Regions from separate parts of the Homo sapiens genome. Here regions 2 and 3 are each reported to be linked to region 1. Evidence: microRNA targets listed by miRTarBase, many of them from high-throughput screens and not tested one by one. Region 1 holds a microRNA gene; each other region holds the end of a gene's coding sequence. Distances are from middle to middle.

Region 1 (7,197 bases):
TTAAGTGAAGCATTTGGACCATTGACATTTAATGTTCATGTTGACATGTGAGGTCCTGTTGTATTCATTGTGCTAGTTGTTGCAGCTTTTACCCAAATTTTGATCTATTCTGTTAGCCTCACCAATGCTACCCAGCCTGCTTTCCAAGAGCTATATGAGAGTCTTAGGCCACAATCCAACCCCAATTGTGAACCCTTTACATTACAGTTTGGGACACTCTTGAAGGAGGTGATGTACCCAGAGGAATTAACTCTAGTGAATAAGCTAGATTAGGAAGGTTTCTGGGGTCCTGGTTTGGACTAGGTTCTGCTTGGAGTGAATATATGGTCAAAAATTTTTCTTGCACTGTTAACAAAATTGCTCATTCCACTGCCCAAGCCACTAGGGCACAACAGAAGTCCCTAGACTCCCTTGCTTTCATGGTCCTAGATGACCACATTGCTTTAGATTATCGCCTCACTGCACAGGGTGGTGTTTGTGCTGTTGCTAACACTTGCGGCTGTGCCTGAAGAAATATTCCAGCCAGGGTGAATTGGGAACATTTAAGGTATCAAATTAATCAAATCTCTGAAAGGGACACCTTCAGGAAGCCTCCTGGCTGGCCTTACTGGGTTAACTTTCCAATATCCATGTATTTTTAGCTGGCTTCCCCCAGGTATAGAATTTTTCTGCATTCTACCCTAAAAGTATTTATCTTCCTCATATTTGGAAGCAGTTGCCTCCTCTGTAAAATTGTTTTATCCTCTTTTAACAGATGTCTGTAAGAGACCCCTACCAGGATAGTGTTGGCCTGATTCTTGAGACTTTAAACTCACTCTAGCAGGAAACCAAAAGCAACTTAACCCAAGAGACTTTTGTTCAAATTTAAGAGGTACCTGAGTGCCTCATAAGTAAATCATCATTTATTTGAAGTAAATGGCTCTAGTGCAGTTGGCTAGTGCCCTGCCACTGGGATCCATGTGTGGGACTAGATGGACCCAGAGCAGTTTGCTGGTGCTGTGATGAAAGGAAGTGCTGTGTGCTGCCATGTTTGAGCTAATTCTTCAAGATGGATCCTGAGTGGGTCACTAGGCCTAAATTTCAAATAAAGCAAAGTGGCCATTTGCTAACTAGGAGTCACAGAGGCACTCTGAGTTCCCTGAAAACCTACACTATTTAACATTGGGACTTTCAGGACTCCCCTAAACCAACCAATTAAAGGTCACTCACGTCCACCAATCCAGGGTCTGGTGTATCAACCAATCAGAACTGAGTTTTAAGTTTCAGTACTTCATTTGCATAAACAGGCTTGATTGGGAACCTGGGCAGGTTCTTCTTACTTAAATGTTACCATCCTAGCTTTTTTTTTTTTTTTTTGAGTTTTACCCTCATCTCCCAGGCTGGAGTGCAATGGGGGGATCTCGGCTCACTGCAGCCCCCACCTCCCAGATTCAAGGGATTCTCCTGCCTCTGCCTCCCAAGTAGCTGGGATTAATGGCACCGGCAACTACACCCAGCTAATTTTTGTGTGTTTAGTAGAGATGGGGTTTCCCCATATTGGTCGTGAACTCCTGTGCTCAGATGATGCATCTTCCTTGGATGCCCAAAATGCTAGGATTACAGCTGTGAGCTACCATGCCTGGCCCCTAGTCATTTAAAATTATGAAAAATACTTATCCAGGCAAACCTATGTTATGTCTACTAAAGGAAACTAAATAGTTTTGTGTCTATATCTGTGAAAACTTTATTTGTCCTAGCAATTTTTGATTTATTTTTGTTTGGAATACATTCTTTTTTTGATGTATGATTGTGGCTGGAAAACAGGAAAGATAATTTTGTCATTTTTTGTCTTTAATTCTTGCCCCATTTCCAACCAGTTCTCATCATTTTTTCAGATGATTCCAGAAAGATAACCACCTCCCTTTGTATACTCAATTAAATATTCAATAAATTAATATCCTGCATAAACAGAGTTGTTAAGTCACCAAGAGTTACTTCTAATTGTACAACTGGCCTATCACATCATGAATTTGTATGAACTGTCAGCTCAACATAAGTTTCACAGCCATTTGCTTCATTTAACGTGTCATATCAGACACCAACTTGGTTTTCTTGGAAAGTTTGAATTTGTAAACGGCAATTACCTAGTGTTGATTATTATTATAGAACTGTTAAGAATACCATTTAGGAACTCCTGTGGTAGATTCTCCACATTTTTCCTTCATATATCTTTTTATTAATATCTTTGAACTTCATTAGGCAATAAGCAGTAGAAGAATTTTATCAAAATTCTTTAAAAAAATAGAGTTAGATATGGACAGGCAATGAATTTGAGAGAAATGAACAATATAGGGCTTGCTCATTATTATTGTGAATAAAGCCTGAATTACATAATCCCTTCAATTTTTTGTGTGTGTGCTTTTCAGGGACATTATCTTATGTATGCATGGATATCTGTGAATATATGTATACATATGTATATTTTTAGAGAAATTTAGCTTTTCAACGAGTCTTCACTCAATTATCGCTGGTTGTTTGGAGAAGGTTGTCATTCTTTTTAATCTGTCTTTTTTTCTTCCCAGTATAAACTTATCTTGTAGTTGTCACATTTTACGTATTTCTGGGTTGAGAATCATTGTCTATATTTGTAGAATTGCATTCGGTATAGATAGCCTCATTCAGTATCATAATCAGTGATTTGCAAATTTTGGGAAGTCGGAATTCTTACAATGGATTGGTAGAGCTTTACTACCAGCCCCTTCAAGATTTTCATCCTCCAACTGCAGAACCAGGAAATTATCACTAATACAAATGGGAAAGAAAATATACATGCTGATAGTTACACAGGTTGTGAATAGTAAATTAGTATGTCATTTATTTTAGGTATTCAATGTTGCATAGTCATATTATAATTACGTAGCTTCTTTGTTTTTTTCTAGGTTCCCAAAGAGTCTACAAATGTTGTCTCCTTAATCCTTGCAACGAACCTGAGCCACTGATTCAGTAAAATACTCAGTGGCACATGTTTGTTGTGAGGGTCAAAAGAGATAATCTCTACAGGCCTCATGGACACTGCAAACCATGTAAGTCATCAGTTATGTAGCTACTGCTGCTTCTCCTTCACCTCCTTGTAGTGACACTGGTAGTAGAGTAATCATAGCGGTAGAGACTGTATTACTAGTACTTTGGTAAAAATGACAGCATGTTCAATAAACACCTTTTATTAGGTCAGAGATCAGAGGACAGGTAGCAGCAAGATGAATTTCTTCTTATTTTCTGTTTTTCTGAGGTTAATGTGGATGGTTTCTGTGAGGTTAACGCTGCGTAGCAGTCTTAATGTTGTTCTATGATCACATGATTAGCTGTGATTACTGTGATTATCTCTGCATTTCTGGTTTTTTCCATTTGCAAATGTATGTTCTACACATGTCCTCAATTGCTATGACAAATCAAAACTGTTCTGTGATTATATGGTTATCTGTGATTACTGTGATTATCTCTGCATTTCTGTGTGTCTTTTTCCATTTGCAAATGTACGTTATATACATGTCCTCAATCACTGACAAATCAAAACTTTCGGATATCGTTTCTTTGGGAACAATTTGTTGTAGTTATGGAATGTGGAAATGCATATGAAAATCTGAAGTACATATCTGCCAGGCATGTAGTCATTAAGCAAATTGTCCTGTTAGTACTACTGCAAGCAGTACTAGTACTATAACTAATGGTATCAGTCCTAGTAACACTGCTATTATATTAGTACTAAGAAGGGTATCATCAGTTATCACTCATAGGATTTCATTGGTGGTTTTTCATATACATATTGTAATGTATTCTGCTTTATGATTCAATTTACATATTTTTCTAGAATACCCTGTGGATATCTATGCCCATAGAGATAATTTATTTGCAGTGCAAGCGTTGACGCCACTGCAAACACAGGTAAGGGGAAGTTAATGGTTGAAGATGACAGACTTGATTTTATTCATCCATGATTGCAAATTATAAAATATTATGTCCTTACCTGATCATTTACTTTAATTTGGCATAATTGTTGCATATAAATGGTGAATGGGACATCCTCACCTGGTTCCTGATCTTAGGAGTCAAACATAAAAATGTTAACAATTAAGTCTTCCGTTAGCTGTGCGTTTTCATAGAAGCCCTTCAACCAATTGAGGATATACTCGATTCTATGCCTGATTTGCTGTTATTATTTTTAGATATGGATGTTAGATTTAGTCACATATTTCTCCGCATCAATTGAAATGATCTCTTTTTTTCCATTTTAATCTGTTAATATTGAAAATTGCCAGGCTTTGCCTGGGTTCCCATTCTTTGCACTGGAGTCAATATTCTCTCTCTGAGAAGTTGGCAGGAGAATGGACGGACTGTTCTAATGTGTCCCCTCTCTCACAGATCACTCTACAGTGTCTGAAAGACATGTTTTTCTGTATATATCTGGTTTTTCTTTGTTTTAGACAGCAGATTAATTTGGTCACTATTCCTTCATCTGATCTGGAAACAGTAATCTCCGATTACCAAATGGTAAGAGCCTGGAAATCCTTAGACATGTAGAGGCCTATGTACAAAAAGCTCATAATTTTTACATATTACCTATTCATTACCATCTTACCTCTGATATCGTTCATTATTTTTGAGACCATTCTAGTGAGATGTTTACACCTATAGGATTTTTAAATAGTTTTCAGTAAAGCATTGCTCCACCTAATTCATCTGGTAAGGGCTTTAAGTTGTTAGCCATCCTGAAGTCTCCTCTTGGAAATGTTTGTATGTTTCGGAGATCTGAGTATACAGTTGGGCACTTCTACAGATTCGTCTTTCTTTTTGCTAAGATTCTTGTTTTTCCGTTATTTATTGATAGTTAATACTGATGGTTTGTGAAGTAAGTACTTTGTGTAGTGTCTCTTTGTTCTCTCCCACCCTTACAAATCTAATGGTTTTAATGTTTTAATGACTCTAGATAGACAGTGATATCTCCATTTTTAATGCATTGCTGTATTAAAGAAATTCTCATTCCACATCATCACAGTCAGTAAGTTCCAAGCAAGTCACTTAGGAGAACTCTGCCTTCCCATCATAAATCTGAAAGTACCTGCTGCCAGCTGTTTCTGGATTGCTGTCTCATTCATCAGAATTATAAAGATTTTGGGACAATTTGTTGTAAAGAAAGATAGTTGATAGTGATGGTGAATTATAGGTAATAGAATTCCTGACAAACTTATCTCATAGATGGTTAAGTAGGTTGTAAATAGGAAATTTCATGGGTCATTTTTCTTCTTTAAATATGCCCTTTATGTTACATGAAACATAATATCTGCTGCATTGTTATATCTGAGGATCCAAGTGAATTTTCACACGTGTTCTCACGAATCTTCATGACAAATCCATGTCAATGAGTGTGTAGTGGATTCATCATCATGTGTTTGTTGTGAGAACGTATGAGAAGATTCACAGAAAATTCCTAAGTACATTGATGTGGTGTAAGTGGGCATTTCAGAAATGTAAGTTCTTGTTTTAGCTCTTGTCCTTTTACTTCTATTTACTTTTTTTAATGAAATTCTATTTTTACGGAATAAGGCAATGAAATATAATGAGATATATAGTAGTCTCTGACTCCATGCCAACTGGTGTGTTTAGTGCTTCTCATTGCATGGTAAACAGCCTATCATCATCTTTGTGAGTTAAATCCCCTAGGGCCAGTGGAAGAAATAAATACTGGCAGAACTGGGTCAAAATAGGAATCGTTTTCCAGATGTTTGCCTTCAAAGCTTTTCTAGACCTTTAACAGTCCGATAAAATGGACATATTTCTTCTCTGCTCTGTATCTACAATTATATTTGCTTTGATGAAGAAAGGATATGAAACTTTGCTACATTTGTGTCAAGCTTAGTAGCGGGATAATAGGTGAATGATCGCCTGGATATTGATAATTTCAGGTGGGAGTGAGAGTAAGGTTCCAGTTATGGCCAGGAGAACTGGATTGGGGTCAGGCATTTAGCAAATGTCATCTGTGCAAACCACTTATGAGACAGAGCTTACGTTTCTTGGTTCTTGTCTCCTAGATTTTGGCCAGGCATTTCCTCACTTACAGGAAGGTGTTTGAGACTTTCAAGAGGAGCTGTAAAATATATTTTGTTTAGCTTGCTTAGTTGTCCGAAGCAGTAATGTTGGAATGAATTGCCTTTCCCCATTATCAAAATCAGTAGTTTCCAAATATGTTTTAATATAATGATTGCTGGTACTAAGGGAAGCTTTTGGTTTTTGTATATGTCTTGTCTAACCAACTTACTAAAGCTAGTTAACAGTAATCATTTCGGATTAATTTTCTTCAGTTCTTTGGGTGTTTGATATTAACTACGTGCATGAGGCATTGCAAAACTAAAAGCAAACTCCACATTCCGTTTTGATAGTGAATCAGAGAGCATGCTAAATGTTGGAAATAGGCCTCACCCATTTGTCTACATTTGCCTTTTAGAGACAAGATGTTTACTTCAGGCAGGGCGTGGTGGCTTACGCCTGTAATCTCAAAACTTTGGGAGGCTGAGGGGGGCGAATCACCTGAGGTCAGGAGTTAAAGACCAGCCTGGCCTACATGGTGAAACGCTGTCTCTACTAAAAATACAAAAATTAGCTGGACATGGTGGCAGGAGCCTGTAATCCCAGCTACTCAGCAGCTGAGGAAGAAGAATTGCTTGAACCTGGGAAGCGGAGGTTGCAGTGAGCCGAGATCCTGCCATTGCACTCCAGCCTGGGCAATGTAAGTGAAACTCTGTCTCAAAAAAAAAAAAAAAAGAAAAAACAAAACAAAAGACTAGGAAGGTATCATTTAAGAAAGAAGAATGAAATAAATTAATACATTTGAATATTGAATATATTTTCCTGAATAGTTGTTGCTTGAATACCTTTTCTTTCATTGTGTTAATGTTTTATAGTCCCTTAGAAATTTATGCTATAAGGAGATTCTATTTTGGTGTATTTCAAGGTTTTGTTAGAAGATCTAGAACTCCTTTTAGCATTTCTTGTAGTGCTGGCTTGGTAGTGGTGTATTCTCTTCAGCATTTGTCTGAAAAATTTTATCTCTCCTTCATTTATGAAGCTTAATTTTGTGGGATACAAAATCCTTGGCTGATAATTATTTTGTTTGAAAAGGCTAAAGATAGGATATCAATCTCTTCTGGCTTGTAAGGTTTCTGC
Region 2 (7,197 bases), 11 Mb from region 1:
GTGGTTGGGGTGGGTGTGAACCAGGGATATTTAAAACTTGAGGACTTAGATCCTCTTTCCTTCCTTCCATCCAGGCAGCCAGGACTGGCAGGCCATCAGGGTCAGAGCCAAGGAGATGGATGGGGCTGAGGAGGCAGGCCGGGTAGCCAGCTGGCAGGGTAGGAAATTGGTTACACATAGGAGAAAGGAGTAATTACACTGAGATAAACACTGGAATGAACCCTGTGGTACTGAATTGGAATCAGAGGTATAGTTTGAACTCATTATATTTAATAAACAAATATAGATGTGTATATACATTTACATGGTGTATATATACACATACATGTGTTTTTCTCTGTGATCTGAGGCCTTTAAACAATGATGCCCCAATAGCGATGATATACCTAGTTCCCCACCTTGGTTTTTAAACATTGTTCTCTATTAAAAGGAATCAAGGGGCTCCTCAGAGAAATGGCTGATCCCAGGGGCTGGGGCAAGCAGAGTATGAATCTGGGACATCTTGAGCCAGAAAAGTAAAAAACTGCTCAGAAACTGATAGGGATTTGTCCAAAGGACACAGGGACAAGTTGGAGGGGCCCTCATTTTCCAAATCTGAGGCAACTTGAATATCAAAACAATCATGGTAATGAAGTAAAACTAACTAAAACAGGAGTCCATGAGTCCACACTGATGCAAAGTGGTGGAGGAGAGTGTGTTCTCCTTTACAGTAGAATGTCAACTAATAAATTAATGATGGAATTAGAGCCAGCATTAGGTAGCCATCATGATACTATCAGGCAGCCATCATAATACCATCAGACAAGAAAGATCAATGAATGCTAAAACTAGGGGGTCAAAGTTTAATGAGTAAACAGGATATTTATAGTCTCAAAGTACCTCCACACAAAATACTTTAATTTCAATGGGAAAAAGACAGTAGACACCACCTTATCCAAGGGATCAAAGTTATCATCACTAGTAACAGGACAAAGTAACACCATGTGCCTCCTCTAGAAGAAATAGGGGTCTCTCCCCTATTGAAGTAGTCTGAATAAAATCTGTGTTGCTAACTATGTCTGGTATTGTTCCTCTTTGACAAGGGCAAGAAGATATATCTCAGAAACAGTATGAAAAGTCATGCTGAAAAATTATATGCAAGGAATGAAAGTAAGCAACAAGTCAAGGTTAACTCCTGGGTTCTTGGTTTGAGTAGCTGGGTGGGTGAGGGTGTCAGTTACTAAGATAAGAAAGTCTCCTCCTCCAGAAGAAAAAAAAAAGATTTTTTCCCTTTTGCCAAAAACGGCATTATCACAACTATAGGCAAAAACTGAATGGGTCTGTAGATCAGAGGCAGTTTAAAAAAATCTTTTTATTTAAAAAAAATATAGATACCAGGGTCTTGCTATGTTGCCCAGGCTGGTCTCAAACTCCTGGACTTAAGTGATCCTCTCGCCTCAGCCTCCCAAAATGCTGGGAGCCACTATGCTCAGCTAATAGATGGCAGTTTTGTGTCAGTTAATTTTCTGATTTTGATAGTTGTAATGTGGTTATGTAGAATATCTTTAAGAAATTTACGCTGAAGCATGTAAGGGCAATGGGGCATCATATGATTCAGGAAAAAAATGTATACGTGCATATATATATATATGTATATACATCCCCCCCACACAGAGAGACACAGGGAGAGACAGAATGATAGTGCATATATAGGAGAGACAGATAGACAAAGCAAATGTGGTTAAATGTTAACAATTAAGGAACCTGGGTGAAGGATATATAGGAGTTATTTGAGCTACTCTTACAACTTTTTTGTAAGTTTGAAATTATTTCAAATTTCAAAATGTAAAGGTTTTTTTTTGTTTTTTTTTTTTTAAACAGTCTCGCTCTGTCACCCAGGCTAGAGTGCAGTGGTGCAATCTCAGCTCACTGCAACCTCTGCCTCCCAGGTTCAAGCGTCAGCCTCCCAAGTAGCTGGGATTACAGGCGCACGCCACCACATCCAGTTAATTTTTGTAATTTTAGTAGAAACAGGGTTTTGCCATGTTGCCCAGGCCGGTCTCAAACTCCTGGCTTCAAGCAATCCACCCGCCTTGGCCTCCCAAAGTGCTGGGATTACAGGCGTGAGCCACCATGCCCAGCCCAAAATGTATTTTAAAATAAAGCAGCTCATGTTATTTCTTAAAAACTGAAGATAGGGCCAGGCGAGGTAGCTCACGCCTGTAATCCCAGCACTTTGGGAGGCTGAGGCAGGTAGATCACCTGAGGTCAGAAGTTTGAGACCAGCCTGGCCAACATGATGAAACTCCATCTCTACTAAAAAATACAAAAATTAGCCAAGCATGGTGGCGGGCGCCTGTAGTCCCAGCTACTCAGGAGGTTGAGGCAGGAAGAAATGCTTGAATCCAGGAGGCAGAGGTTGCAGTGGGCAGAGATTGTGCCACTGCACTCCAGCCTGGTCAACAAGAGCAAAACTTTGCCTCAAAAAAAAAAAAAAAAAAAAGAAACTGAAGATAAACTTAATAATCTGAATCACACATAAAAGGCTTTTTGCCTGTTTTTTGTTTTTTTAAGATGGAGTCTTGTTCTGTCACCAGGCTGGAGTGTAGTGGCACAATCTCGGCTCATAGCAACCTCCGCCTCCCGGATTCAAGCGAGTCTCCTGCCTCAGCCTCCCGAGTAGCTAGGACTACAGGTGTGCACCACCATGTCCAGCTAATTTTTGTATTTTTAGTAGAGACGAGGTTTCACCATGTTGGCCAGGATGGTCTTGATCTCTTGACTTCGTGATCTGCCTGCCTCAGCCTCCCAAAGTGCTAGGATTACAGGCGTGAGCCACTGTGCCCGGACCCTTTTGCCTGTTTATCTACCCTCATCTTTTTCTAAAAATAATTTATAGAGGCTTATCAATATGTAAAAATTTTAACAAGATAAACCAAATTGAAAACGAGGAAGAAAGATGTATGACCCTGGCAAGAACCTTCTAAGTTGTCAAATTCTACAAAATACTCTTGAAAATTTGATTATGTGGAGAGGTTTCACTTCGTTTTGGCAAACAGCCCCAACTTCAACATAGCTATTCGTTCTTTTGTGTTTCTGATATCCTTTTATTCAAACTTGACCTGCAATTAGACACAGAGAATAAACTACTGGGATATAGGGGCAGAAAATAATTATTATTAAGAACAAAGGACAGACTTTTAAAACACTAGTAAATTTTATGCATGTATACACACTTTATTAAATTTGCATTCTAAGATATACACAAGGCCAGCATTTCACAAAACTTCCTATTATTCCAAAAGCAGTAATCATGAAACAGTGATTATATAAGTCAATCAAGCAAAAAACATTATCTATAGGGTTGTATCATATCATCTCTTATACCTGTTTTCAAATAGAAGCCTGAAATATATGATATATATTAGAATAGGAAGAGAGAATTTTACTTTATAACAATCGCTTTTCAAATATTAGACTTTATATAAAAATAAAGGGGTCTTAACAAAGTTCATCTGTGAGTTAGCATATCTCTTTATTTCAAAACAATCCCTGCAAAAACTTAACTTTCCAGTCCATTTAAACAACAAAAACTAAAAATGAAGCTTGGTTTAAATAATAAAGTGAATCATCTTGTCTCCTAGTTCTCACACCATTGGAACAACTTCCATTTCCTGACCTAATTCTATCCCACCATTGAATTTCAAAAATTAATGTAAATACCATCATATTTCAGTTATTTCTTAACAGTGTTAAGTTCGAGCCTAAAAATGATGGCCAAGTGTCCCTTTAAGGCAAAGAAGACAGTAGGTGGATAAATATCCTGAAAGACAAAACCATCTATTATCATTATAGAGGCAGAACATTTTGACATGATCTTTTACAAACAGAATAGATACACTGCATACCATCGAAGAATTTTTTCTTTATAATGGCATACTAGGGGACAAGCTTCATAATAGATTTATGTTACGTTTGAAGAAGTAGAGACTTTTCCCAGATGAGAGCAATACAAGAAATAAAGCCATTAATGGCTGTTATGGTTACAATTTAAAATAAAGGACACATCGGATGCTGTAACAGAAGTACTGCACGCTAAGTGATGCTCTCTTGTAATTGAAAGAGAATGGGTTTCCCTTCAAACCATATGCTATTACTAGTCTCTGAGTGCCTTCAAAGCACATACTCTTCCTTTAAAATCCAAGGATCCTTGCCTTCAAAAGACACAAATGCAGTAGTTTTCATTTCTTACATTCACTTAAAAATGGATTATGATTCCAGCAGGCAAATCTGCATATTAAATATAGACAACCCAACCACAGTATCTGAACGTTAAAAGAAATCTATCACGACAGACATTTTACCTAGTTATAAATAACGTAACAATAGATCACACTCAGATTTCTTAAACAGCTCACTCAGGAGTTTCCTCTTTTAAAAATTAAATAACTTATGGTACCTCACACTTATAGCACATACACAGTTCATAGCTGAAACAGCTTCTTAAAAGCAGAATGCACAATCACATTGACTTTTTCAGCTTCTAAAAGCTTCTTTGTAGATATTAAACTGCCCTCACTACAAGGCAGTATGAACAAGAACTGGATTCTGATTCTGGTGGCAACACAATAACTATAAGGCAGTAAGAACAAGAACTGGATTCTGATTCTGGCAGCAACACAATAACTAAAACACCATTCACCACATGACAAAACAAACAAATCCAATGACAAAAAGGAATCGGAAAAAAAGCAGCAACAGAAACAGTATGTGGCAATCATTCACATAAGGCCCCTCTTCCACCATACCTTATGATATACATCCCTTATAGCATGACAATGTACCCCAAGGCACCTGAGGCCTCATAATACCACTCGAGACACTGACAGCTCCATGGACGCTTTTGTACACAGTGGTTTGTGTGTAAATAACTATTCATTCATTTGTAGATGCTCCACACATCTGGTCAAGGCAGGAATTTCTTCTCCTTGATAACACCACCTAGAAATATCAACAATATTTTATATATTCCTTAGGGCAACAGGTTTGAGGAGAAATATATCAACTGTGGTAGCAAAGTCATAAGAACCTGTGATGACTAATCCAAGCATCCTGTAAGTCCGTTTACATTCTCAGCACTAAAATCAATGCTCACTTCACACACCCCAACAGCAAAGAAGCAATAAGAGTAATGAAAGCAACTACGTATTTCTTCCCCTCTGTGAGAAATGGCATAAGCGGCTCAAACAGGAAAGGGAAACAAAATAATGTACTTGAAGCTGATGCAGAAAAATAAAAATTTAATATAATTAAAAGCAATTTATATATCATCATGAAATAAAGAGAGATTTGAAACTATGTAGTCAACAGAGGACAAAAAAAAATCTCTCAAGCAAGAGAATTTCTGATCAAATCTGTCATATCACTGCTGCGGAAAAGGACCATTAAAGGCAATACACATCAGTGCCTTTCTTAAATGTATAGACTCAAAATAGGTGTTTTTTGAGGCACTAAGAAAAAAGATTCCTCTAAGCAATCAAAAATCAGCATTTGAGATTTAATCACTAAATCCAAAATGAGATCAGCAAAACCAGATACTAGTAAGGTCACTAGGCTCACAAAATTGAACTTTGGAGAAGAGAGATGCCAAAGAGTAATAATAGCATCAGAATGTGTGAAATCTGTAAAACTTTAATCCTCATTATGGATCAAAGTTCTCTGCGTTCCCCACTAAACATTTTATGTAGGAAACAGCAGTTAAAACGTTGAATCAGAAATGGTTAAGTCACTTGGGTGAGAGATCATCCATCAAGATGAACGAAGAGCATGAATTGGAGCATGCTACTGGAGACTCTGCGGTAGCGCTGCCTTTAGCCAGCGGGTCTGAGGATAAGCCACTGCTGCTACTACTGCCATCCAAAATATCTGAACTGAAGACAAAGCAAAAAGAATTATAAGCAAATGCAACTATCAGGGTAAACATAACATGCAATGACACAGTTTCAAGAGCTCACAAATCAGTAAATCACTTGTAAATAATAAAAAAGCATAAAGCCACAGCAATGAACTACATAATATACTACATTATAAAGCCACAGAAATCCAAAGTAAGACTCTTCGAGGTCCTGTATCATTTGATTGTCCCCCCTAGAGGCACCAGACCGCCTAACCTACAATAAACGTTCCTCGTGACATGCCATGGTTTTCGGGAGGGAGTTCCTTCACTTCACTTCAGCTCAAGAAATTTCTATTCTTATGTTTACCTTCCCATCAGGCTTGGAGCAAGAGGAATGGTTACTTATTGAGGTAACCATACTCGGACTATCAGAGGTGTTCGATCAAGTACACTGCCTCATAGTTCCTCTACTCTAAAACAAAGTCTTTCAACTCCCCTAGAGTTATCACTTCCCCATTCCCAAAGGGCCTTCAATTCAAACACATTTTTTAAATGATTTCCCCCTCCAATTCTATGCCATTTATAATTCCTTACACTATTTCCTTTCTTCTTGCTTTCAAAACCCAAAGGTCTATTTCTAGAAGAGTCCCTTTCTTTGATCCCTTCAGTTATTCTCCAGTTAAGCTTCTACAATGAATAATCTACACTTGTGGTCTCAATACCCGTTGTCTATTGCCTCTTTATCCTGACAACTGGCTCCTGTTCCTATCCTTCCAGTAAAACTCCAGATCTGGACATCAAGAACCTCTATACCCAGCCCAGGGATTCCTTCCCTATCCAGCCTGGGGGCTCACTGTTCCCCAACCATCAACCTGGCCTGACTCATGAATCTGGCTCCATACTTCAGCAAGGAACTGAGAGCCTTTACAGTCTGGCATCAAGCTGCCTTTCTGGCTTTGGTTTCCATCAATCCAGTAATAAGCTCTATGCTTTATATTTGCCCTGAATTCAATCATTCACTTATTCTAATATTTACTGAGTGCCTGCCAAGTGCAGGAAGCACACTAGATATTAGAAATACAATGGTGTTTAAAACAGACGTGGTCCCAGCCCTCATTGAATTTACAGTATTGTGCAGGAGACAGACATTTAAATAATCATGCTAATAAATATATAATTATAATTTGCAGTAAAAGTGATAAAGGAAAGATACAAGGGGCTATGAGAATATATAACATGGGTAACCTAACCTAATTCGGAGGAATGAGAAAAGGTTCCCCAGAGATGATATTTGCTATAATCTGAAGGATGAGCAGGTATTA
Region 3 (7,197 bases), not on the chromosome of region 1:
TGCAGGGAGGAGGGAGAGCTGCTGATGGCCTGAGAGGTCCAACCGGGCCCTGGCTGCAGAGCTCAGGTGGTGGGGCTTGCAGGGCAGGGCTGTGGCCAGGGCAAAGAGCGGCCATCACCGCTTACGCATGACTCGAAGGTGTTTATGAGGACCTACTGTGTGCCATGTGCCTACTGAGGCTTACACATTCAAGGCGTTATCGGACCCTGACCAGTGCTCCCAGGTGCCCTGTAACACAGTCTGCTGGCCTCTGGGAGGGCAGTCTCCTAAGTTCTTTATGGGGTCTGAGCAGGGATTGCAGGGATGATGCCTCCAGGAGACCAAGGTGGACCAGGAGCTCCTGCCTTCTGTGAGAACCACCTTGGGCAGTCTTTCCGAGGTGGTGGCAAGAGCCTGGGGCCCAGCCTCCCAGGGTCCCCTCTCCAAGGCCATGGCTTTACTAACATGTAAAGTGACCAAGGCCTTTGTAGTGTCTGAGTGCAGGCACCACAGGCCTGTGTGCTCTGCCTGTCTGGCTTTGGTGGTGGCCAGCCCTGCCTCTGTGAACTCATCTCTCTTTGTTTGGGAGACACTGCCGTGTCCTGGTTCTCATCCTCTGCCCGTGGCCCAGGCCCTTACGTGGCTCTACCAGGAGTCTGTCCTTGGCACTTTCCCATCTCACTTCTACCAAGTCTGTTCTTTCCAGAAGCCAGACTCGTGGGTGAGCCATGTCACCTCGCCGAGCCTCAGTTTTTCCTTCTGTAAAATGGGGTACAGCCTTCATTTAGTGGGGTGAGTAAGCCTCATGTCTCTTCTGCTGGGGCACTGATGTGCTTGGCACCATAAAACTCCCAGAGGCAGGCCGGGCACAGTGGCTCATGCCTGGAATCTCAGCACTTTGGGAGGCTGAGGCAGGCGAATCACCTGAGGTCAGGAGTTCGAGACCAGCCTGGCCAACATGAAGAAACCCCGTCTCTACTAAAAATACAAAATTAGCCGGGCGTGGTGGTGCGCACCTGTAGTCCCAGCTACTCGGGAGACTGAGGCAGGAGAATCACTTGAACCCAGGAGGTGGAGGTTGCAGTGAGCCGAGATCGTGCCATTGCACTCCAGCCTGGACAAAAAGAGCAAAACTCCGTCTCAAAACAAACGAACACTCTCAGACGCCTCGGGAGGGGATGGCTGGGAGGTGAGCCTGCCTGACTTGAGTCTCCACTGCTTTGTCAAGGTGGTGACCAGAAGATGGAGGACTGGCAGGGTCCCCTGGAGAGCCCCATCCTTGCCTTGCCGCTCTACAGGAGCACCCGCCGTCTGAGTGAAGAGGAGTTTGGGGGGTTCAGGATAGGGAATGGGGAGGTCAGAGGACGCAAAGCAGCAGCCATGTAGAATGAACCGTCCAGAGAGCCAAGCACGGCAGAGGACTGCAGGCCATCAGCGTGCACTGTTCGTATTTGGAGTTCATGCAAAATGAGTGTGTTTTAGCTGCTCTTGCCACAAAAAAAAAAAAAAAAAAAAAAGGGTAACTATGAGAGATGGTGGATATGTTAACTTGCTTCGCTATAGGAACCTTTGTGCTATCTATATTATCTATATGAATCCCATCATATCAGGTTGTCTACCTTAAATATACACAAAAACATTTATTTAAAAAAAAGAAAAAAGCCTGCCAGCTGGGATTCTTGGAGTGCTGGTGGCCTTCAGCAAACACAGACACTGTTGGTGTGAGGGCTTCAGGAGGGTCACAGAAATAAGGGGGTCTGTGTGGCCCTGTCCTCGCCTCTCAGGTGCTGTCACATCTCTCTGGGTGTAGGGAGAGGGAGGGGGGCACACTGCGAAAAGGCCCAGCCCCTCCCCCCCACCTGCTCCCCTCTTCCCTGGAGAGGCACCCCACCTCCTGGTGGCCCAGTCCTATGGTTCAACTCTCACGTGGTCCAGCTCACCTGGGTTGACTGTGAGCCCCACCTGGCACACCTGCTGTTGTTAATCTGCACCTGCAACTAGCAAAGGGGGGTCTGGAATTCTTCCGGGTTCAGTCAGCCTGTGATCCCACACCTCTGTCTGTACAACCTCCGCTCCCCACTCCAACACACACAGAGCCTGCCCCAGCCTACCCTGCACCAGACCCTCTGTACCGGTTTTTCTTGGGATGGAGGTAGAGAGGGACGGAGGCGAGAGGGGGCTGAACTGGAACTGGATTAAACTTTGCCATCTGCCTGTCGCCCTGAAAACTTCATTTCTGTTTGCATGCCATATATATATTTTTTTATATGTGGTCTTTTCTTTTTTTTTTTTTTTGAGATGGAGTCTCGCTCTGTCGCAATGGTGCAATCTCGGCTCACTGCAACCTCCGCCTCCCGGGTTCAAGCGATTCTCCTGCCTCAGCCTGCCAAGTAGCTGGGACTACAGGCACGCGCCACCATGCCCAGCTAATTTTTGTATTTTTAGTGGAGACGGGGTTTCACCATGTTGGCCAGGGTGTTCTCGATCTCCTGACCTCGTGATCCGCCTGCTTCAGCCTCCCAAAGTGCTGGAATTACAGGCGTGAGCCACCACGCCCGGCCGATATGTGGTCTTACTCTGTCACCCAGGCTGGGGTGCAAAGGCGTGATCTTGGTTCACTGCAAACTCCGCCTCCTGGGCTCAGACAATTCTCCCACCTCAGCCTCTGGAATAGCTGGGACTGCTAGTAGCTGCCACCACGCCTCGCTAACTTTCGTTTTTGGTTTTGTTTGTTTGTTTGTTTGTTTGTTTGTTTTGTTTGTTTTGAGATGGACTCTTGCTCTGTTGCCCAGGCTGGGGTGTAGTGGCTCGATCTCAGCACACGGCCACCTCTGCCTACCGGTTTCAAGCAATTATCCTGCCTCAGCCTCCCAAGTAGCTGGGATTACAGGCGCTTACCACAACGCCCAGCTAATTTTTTTGTTGTTGTTGTATTTTTAGTAGAGACGGGGTTTCACCATGTTGGCCAGGCTGGTCTCAAACTCCTGACCTCAGGTGATCCAACCGCCTCGGCCTCCCAAAGTGCTGGGATTACAGGTGTGAGCCACTGCGCCCGGCCTTGCACACCATCTTTTTTTTTTTTTTTTTTTTTTTTTTTGACACAGAGTTTTGCTCTTGTTGCCCAGGCTGGAGTGCAATGGCACAATCTCGGCTCACCGCAACCTCCACCTCCCAGGTTCAAGCGATTCTCCTGCCTCAGCCTCCCGAGTAGCTGGGATTACAGGCATGCACCACCACACCAGGCTAATTTTTGTATTTTTAGTAGAGACGGGGTTTCTCCATGTTGGTCAGGCTGGTCTCGAACTCCTGACCTCAGGTGATCCAACCGCCTCGGCCTCCCAAAGTGCTGGGATTACAGGTGTGAGCCACCGCTCCCGGCCTTGCACACCATCTTAAGTGTGACGCCACACTGCCCTTCACAGCCTTGGGGCTCTGCCCAGACCAGGAGGAATGGGGAGGGGGTCTTTGACCCTACCCCAGGCTTAGCCCCAGAGAGGAGGAAAGAGTGGCAGGCCAGGCAGGGAGGGGCTCCAGGGTGTGGCCTGGGTTTTTCAGTGGGATGGGGGAGGGGTTGCTTATGAGCCTGGGTGGGTTCTTGGTAGGTGGTGGGCTTCCTAGAGGAGGCGGTGGGAGGGCAGGGGCAAAGAGGGTGAGCGGTCCTCAGTTCGTCCGTCTTCCCGGGGGACTCTCTGACCCTTTCTGGTCCGTGCTGCGGCCGGCGTGGCCCGGAGACTAGCCCCTCAACCCCGAGGTGGGGTGGACCCGGGTGCTCCGCGGCCACAGCCCCTCCCCGCCTCTAGAAGCGCAGTCCCGCGGCTCGCCCGCCGCTCGCGAGGGCCGCACTTTGCCCTCGGTCCCTAGCGGCGCCTGGCCACGCCCCCGGCGGGTGGAGTCGGGCGGGGCGCCGGGCAGGTTCCTCTGCGTTCCGCGGCGGCGGCAGCGGCGGCGACGGCGACATGGAGAGCGGGGCCTACGGCGCGGCCAAGGCGGGCGGCTCCTTCGACCTGCGGCGCTTCCTGACGCAGCCGCAGGTGGTGGCGCGCGCCGTGTGCTTGGTGAGCCCGGGGAGGGCGGGCCGAGGGCACCCTGGGGACCCCCTCTCCGTCGCCAGGCCCGGCGGGGCCCCTAGCCCACGAGCGCGACAGGTGGCGGCGGCCGCGTCCGGGGCCTGGCGGCGAGCGGGGCCGGCGTCCAGCGTCCCGGGCCCCGCCTTCCCGCCCTCCACAGTCTGTCCCGCTGTCCCCTCCCGGTCCCGGGTCCCGCCACCCACCCCACCCCCAGCCTCGCGCCCCGACGCGGGGTGTCCGGATCTCCGCAGGGAGCGGGCCCCTGCCTCGCTGGCAGTGGGAGGAGTTTGGGGGCGGCTCCCGGACAGGTGGCCCGCACGCCGCGACTCCCAGATTGGGGAGTTCACCGGGACGGGGTTTTCCGAAGCCACGTGGGGTAAGGGAGGGGGCGGGGGGCGACCCAACGCCCGGAAACAGGGTGTCCTTCCCACTCGGGGCAGGCCACGGGTCCGCCTTCCCACCCGAAGTTGAGGGACCCCAAGATGTACCCCCTCCCTGTAAGGTGGGCAATACCTCCAAAACCAGGTTTTGTGTGTGTGTGTGTGTGGCGGGGAGGGGGCCTGTTCTTGGACAGCCAGCCCTGAAAGCTGGAGGGGGTGGCATGAGGGGGCAGGCAGAGGTGGGCCTGCTGTGCCCAGACCATGCCTGGGCCTGGAGCTTCTGAGGTCCTCCAGGGCGCCCACACCAGCTCCCAGCCAGGCTGTGGGATCTGATCGCCTCTGTCCTGGGCTGTGTCCAAGAATCAGGTGCCCAGTGGGTCGGGATGGCAGTGCCAGGAGTCCTGGATGGGCACCCTGCTCCCATCATCCCGGAGATCCGGCTTCATCTCCATCTGGGGGCGGGGCCTGTGACTGCCAGCTCCAGAGCCCTATGGAGAGCTCCCTGGGACAACAGGGCAGGACTGGCAGGGGAGAGTCCTGGGGCCATCCCAGAGGGATCCTGATGCTCACAGACCTGTCCCACACCTGCTGAGGTGGAGCAGGCGTGGGTGGTGGCCTTCAAGTTTAGGGAGGTGGTATGGGGCTCTTCCCAAGGGGCTGGAGCTCCCCTACATCCACCCTGGGTCCTCCAGGTGTCTGAGTTCAGAGCTGTATCCACAGGCCTGAGTTAGTCCCCTTGTAGTGCCCTGTGCATGCAGGGCCCTCTGTGGGGTGGGAGACAGACTGGGAGGGACCAGGATGCCACAGAGGCTGCAAGTCCTTGTGTGGAGACAGCTGGCCAGGCTGAACCAGGGAGGGTTCCAGGGGTTCCAGGAGGTGAAGACACAGGGGCGCCAGCATGGCCTTCCCAAGAGGGCCTGTCCACCTTCACCAAGGTGTTCAGGCAGAGGCTGGGTGCTGTAGAAGTGACTTGGGCTGAAGGTGACGGGGGATGGGTAGTCTTTGTGACTTGGCCTGTCTTGGTTAAACCTCTTTCAAGGTGAGGTTGGGCTGGGGATGGAAGGACTGCCCTTCATCCATCAGGTACCTAAGCAGAATGATTCCTGCAGCAGGCCGATGGGGCAGGAGCAGCCCCTGCCTAGGAGGTCCCTGCCCATTCCCCACCCCTCCCCGGTCCAGGATTCCCAGGGGCAGGCCCCCTGGTGCCTGCAGATTCTCATCCTGGGGTGCATCAGGAAGCACTTTGCTCATCAGCTCACCTCCACAAGTTTGGAGGGGCTAAGATGTCAGCCTCCAAAAGGGGACAGCAGGCTGGGCGAGGTGGCTCATGCCTGTAATCCCAGCACTTTGGGAGGCCGAGGAGGGTGGATCACCTGAGGTCAGGAGTTCCAGACCAGCCTGGCCAACATGGTGAAACCCTATCTCTACTAAAAATACGGGTGTGGTGGAGGGCACCTGTAATCCCAGCTACTAGGGAGGCTGAGGCAGAATTGCTTGAACCCAGGAGGCAGAGGATGCAGTGAGCCGAGATCGCACTATTGCACTCCAGCCTGGGCAACAAGAGCAAGACTCCATCTCAAACAACAACAAAAACCCAAAAGGGGACAGCAGTAGTGGGAGAGGCCAGCATCTGTACACCCCATCAGGGTCCCCGCTGTGTGTGCCCCTCAGGCGGCCACCAGCCCTACCAGGTCCTCCCCTCCCGGCAGGTCTTCGCCTTGATCGTGTTCTCCTGCATCTATGGTGAGGGCTACAGCAATGCCCACGAGTCTAAGCAGATGTACTGCGTGTTCAACCGCAACGAGGATGCCTGCCGCTATGGCAGTGCCATCGGGGTGCTGGCCTTCCTGGCCTCGGCCTTCTTCTTGGTGGTCGACGCGTATTTCCCCCAGATCAGCAACGCCACTGACCGCAAGTACCTGGTCATTGGTGACCTGCTCTTCTCAGGTATCTGCCTGTGGCACCTCCATTTGATCTTGGGGGAGGCATTAACTCTAGGGTTCCGCAGCTGGGAGGGTCTCGGCCTCTCTGGGAGGGGCAGGGAGCAGCTCACTCCTCCAGGGCATTTTTAGGAAAGGGTTTTCAGCTAGTGTTTTTCCGTGCTTGAATGGCACCAGCCCTGCCTGGGGTAGCTAGAAGCTGAGTGGACCTGCAGCACACCCGAGCAGATGGGCTTTGCCTCTGCCCCTTTTGTCCCCTAGGCTGTCTGCTGTGGCCCACCCTGCCAAGGCCCGAGTGTGGGGGACTTTGGAGGTGGCTCCCGGCCCGGCTTCCAAGTCCTCCCCTCCATAGTGTGGAGGCTCCCCCGGGAGGTCCCTGCCCTACCTGCCCGCGTCCCCTCCCAGAGTCCTGGAAAGCCCCTCCCTTTCCATGGAACTGACGCTTCACCCGTCCTCCCCCAGCTCTCTGGACCTTCCTGTGGTTTGTTGGTTTCTGCTTCCTCACCAACCAGTGGGCAGTCACCAACCCGAAGGACGTGCTGGTGGGGGCCGACTCTGTGAGGGCAGCCATCACCTTCAGCTTCTTTTCCATCTTCTCCTGGGTAGGATGGCCAGGGGCCGGTTCTTGGGTCAAGGGTGGTGGAGGGTGGGGTCCCCCACCCACCTGTACCCTGCTGTGCTCCCCCTGCAGGGTGTGCTGGCCTCCCTGGCCTACCAGCGCTACAAGGCTGGCGTGGACGACTTCATCCAGAATTACGTTGACCCCACTCCGGACCCCAACACTGCCTACGCCTCCTACCCAGGTGCATCTGTGGACAACTACCAACAGCC

The links. Region 1 holds the annotated microRNA hsa-miR-891a-3p (AGUGGCACAUGUUUGUUGUGAG, at 2,994-3,015, shown strand). A microRNA usually pairs through its seed, bases 2 to 8, with sites in the 3' UTR of a target mRNA and lowers its output. Matches are read on the target gene's strand: a 7mer-m8 pairs with bases 2 to 8, a 7mer-A1 pairs with bases 2 to 7 and ends in A, and an 8mer does both.
Region 2: the mRNA of PABIR2 is a reported target of hsa-miR-891a-3p. Seed matches in the 3' UTR shown: 7mer-A1 at 4,749-4,755.
Region 3: the mRNA of C17orf99 is a reported target of hsa-miR-891a-3p. Seed matches in the 3' UTR shown: 7mer-A1 at 1,469-1,475.

What each region holds. Positions count from the first base shown.
Region 1 is chrX:146,023,622-146,030,818 of GRCh38, reverse strand. It overlaps MIR891A (microRNA 891a), which reads left to right and starts at 2,947; the gene lies at 2,947-3,025.
Region 2 is chrX:134,766,375-134,773,571 of GRCh38, forward strand. PABIR2 (PABIR family member 2) reads right to left here. Exons shown (of 10, transcript NM_001387468.1): 10 at 3,192-5,909. The coding sequence ends at 5,765. Among named protein-coding and RNA genes, the nearest start is that of PABIR2, 27 kb to the right of the region's middle.
Region 3 is chr17:78,164,682-78,171,878 of GRCh38, forward strand. C17orf99 (chromosome 17 open reading frame 99) reads left to right here. Exons shown (of 5, transcript NM_001163075.2): 5 at 1,208-1,616. The coding sequence ends at 1,365. SYNGR2 (synaptogyrin 2) reads left to right here and starts at 3,900. Exons shown (of 4, transcript NM_004710.7): 1 at 3,900-4,034; 2 at 6,136-6,373; 3 at 6,829-6,968; 4 at 7,058-7,197. The coding sequence starts at 3,936. RefSeq lists silencers at 3,563-4,172, 4,203-4,362 and an enhancer at 7,192-7,197.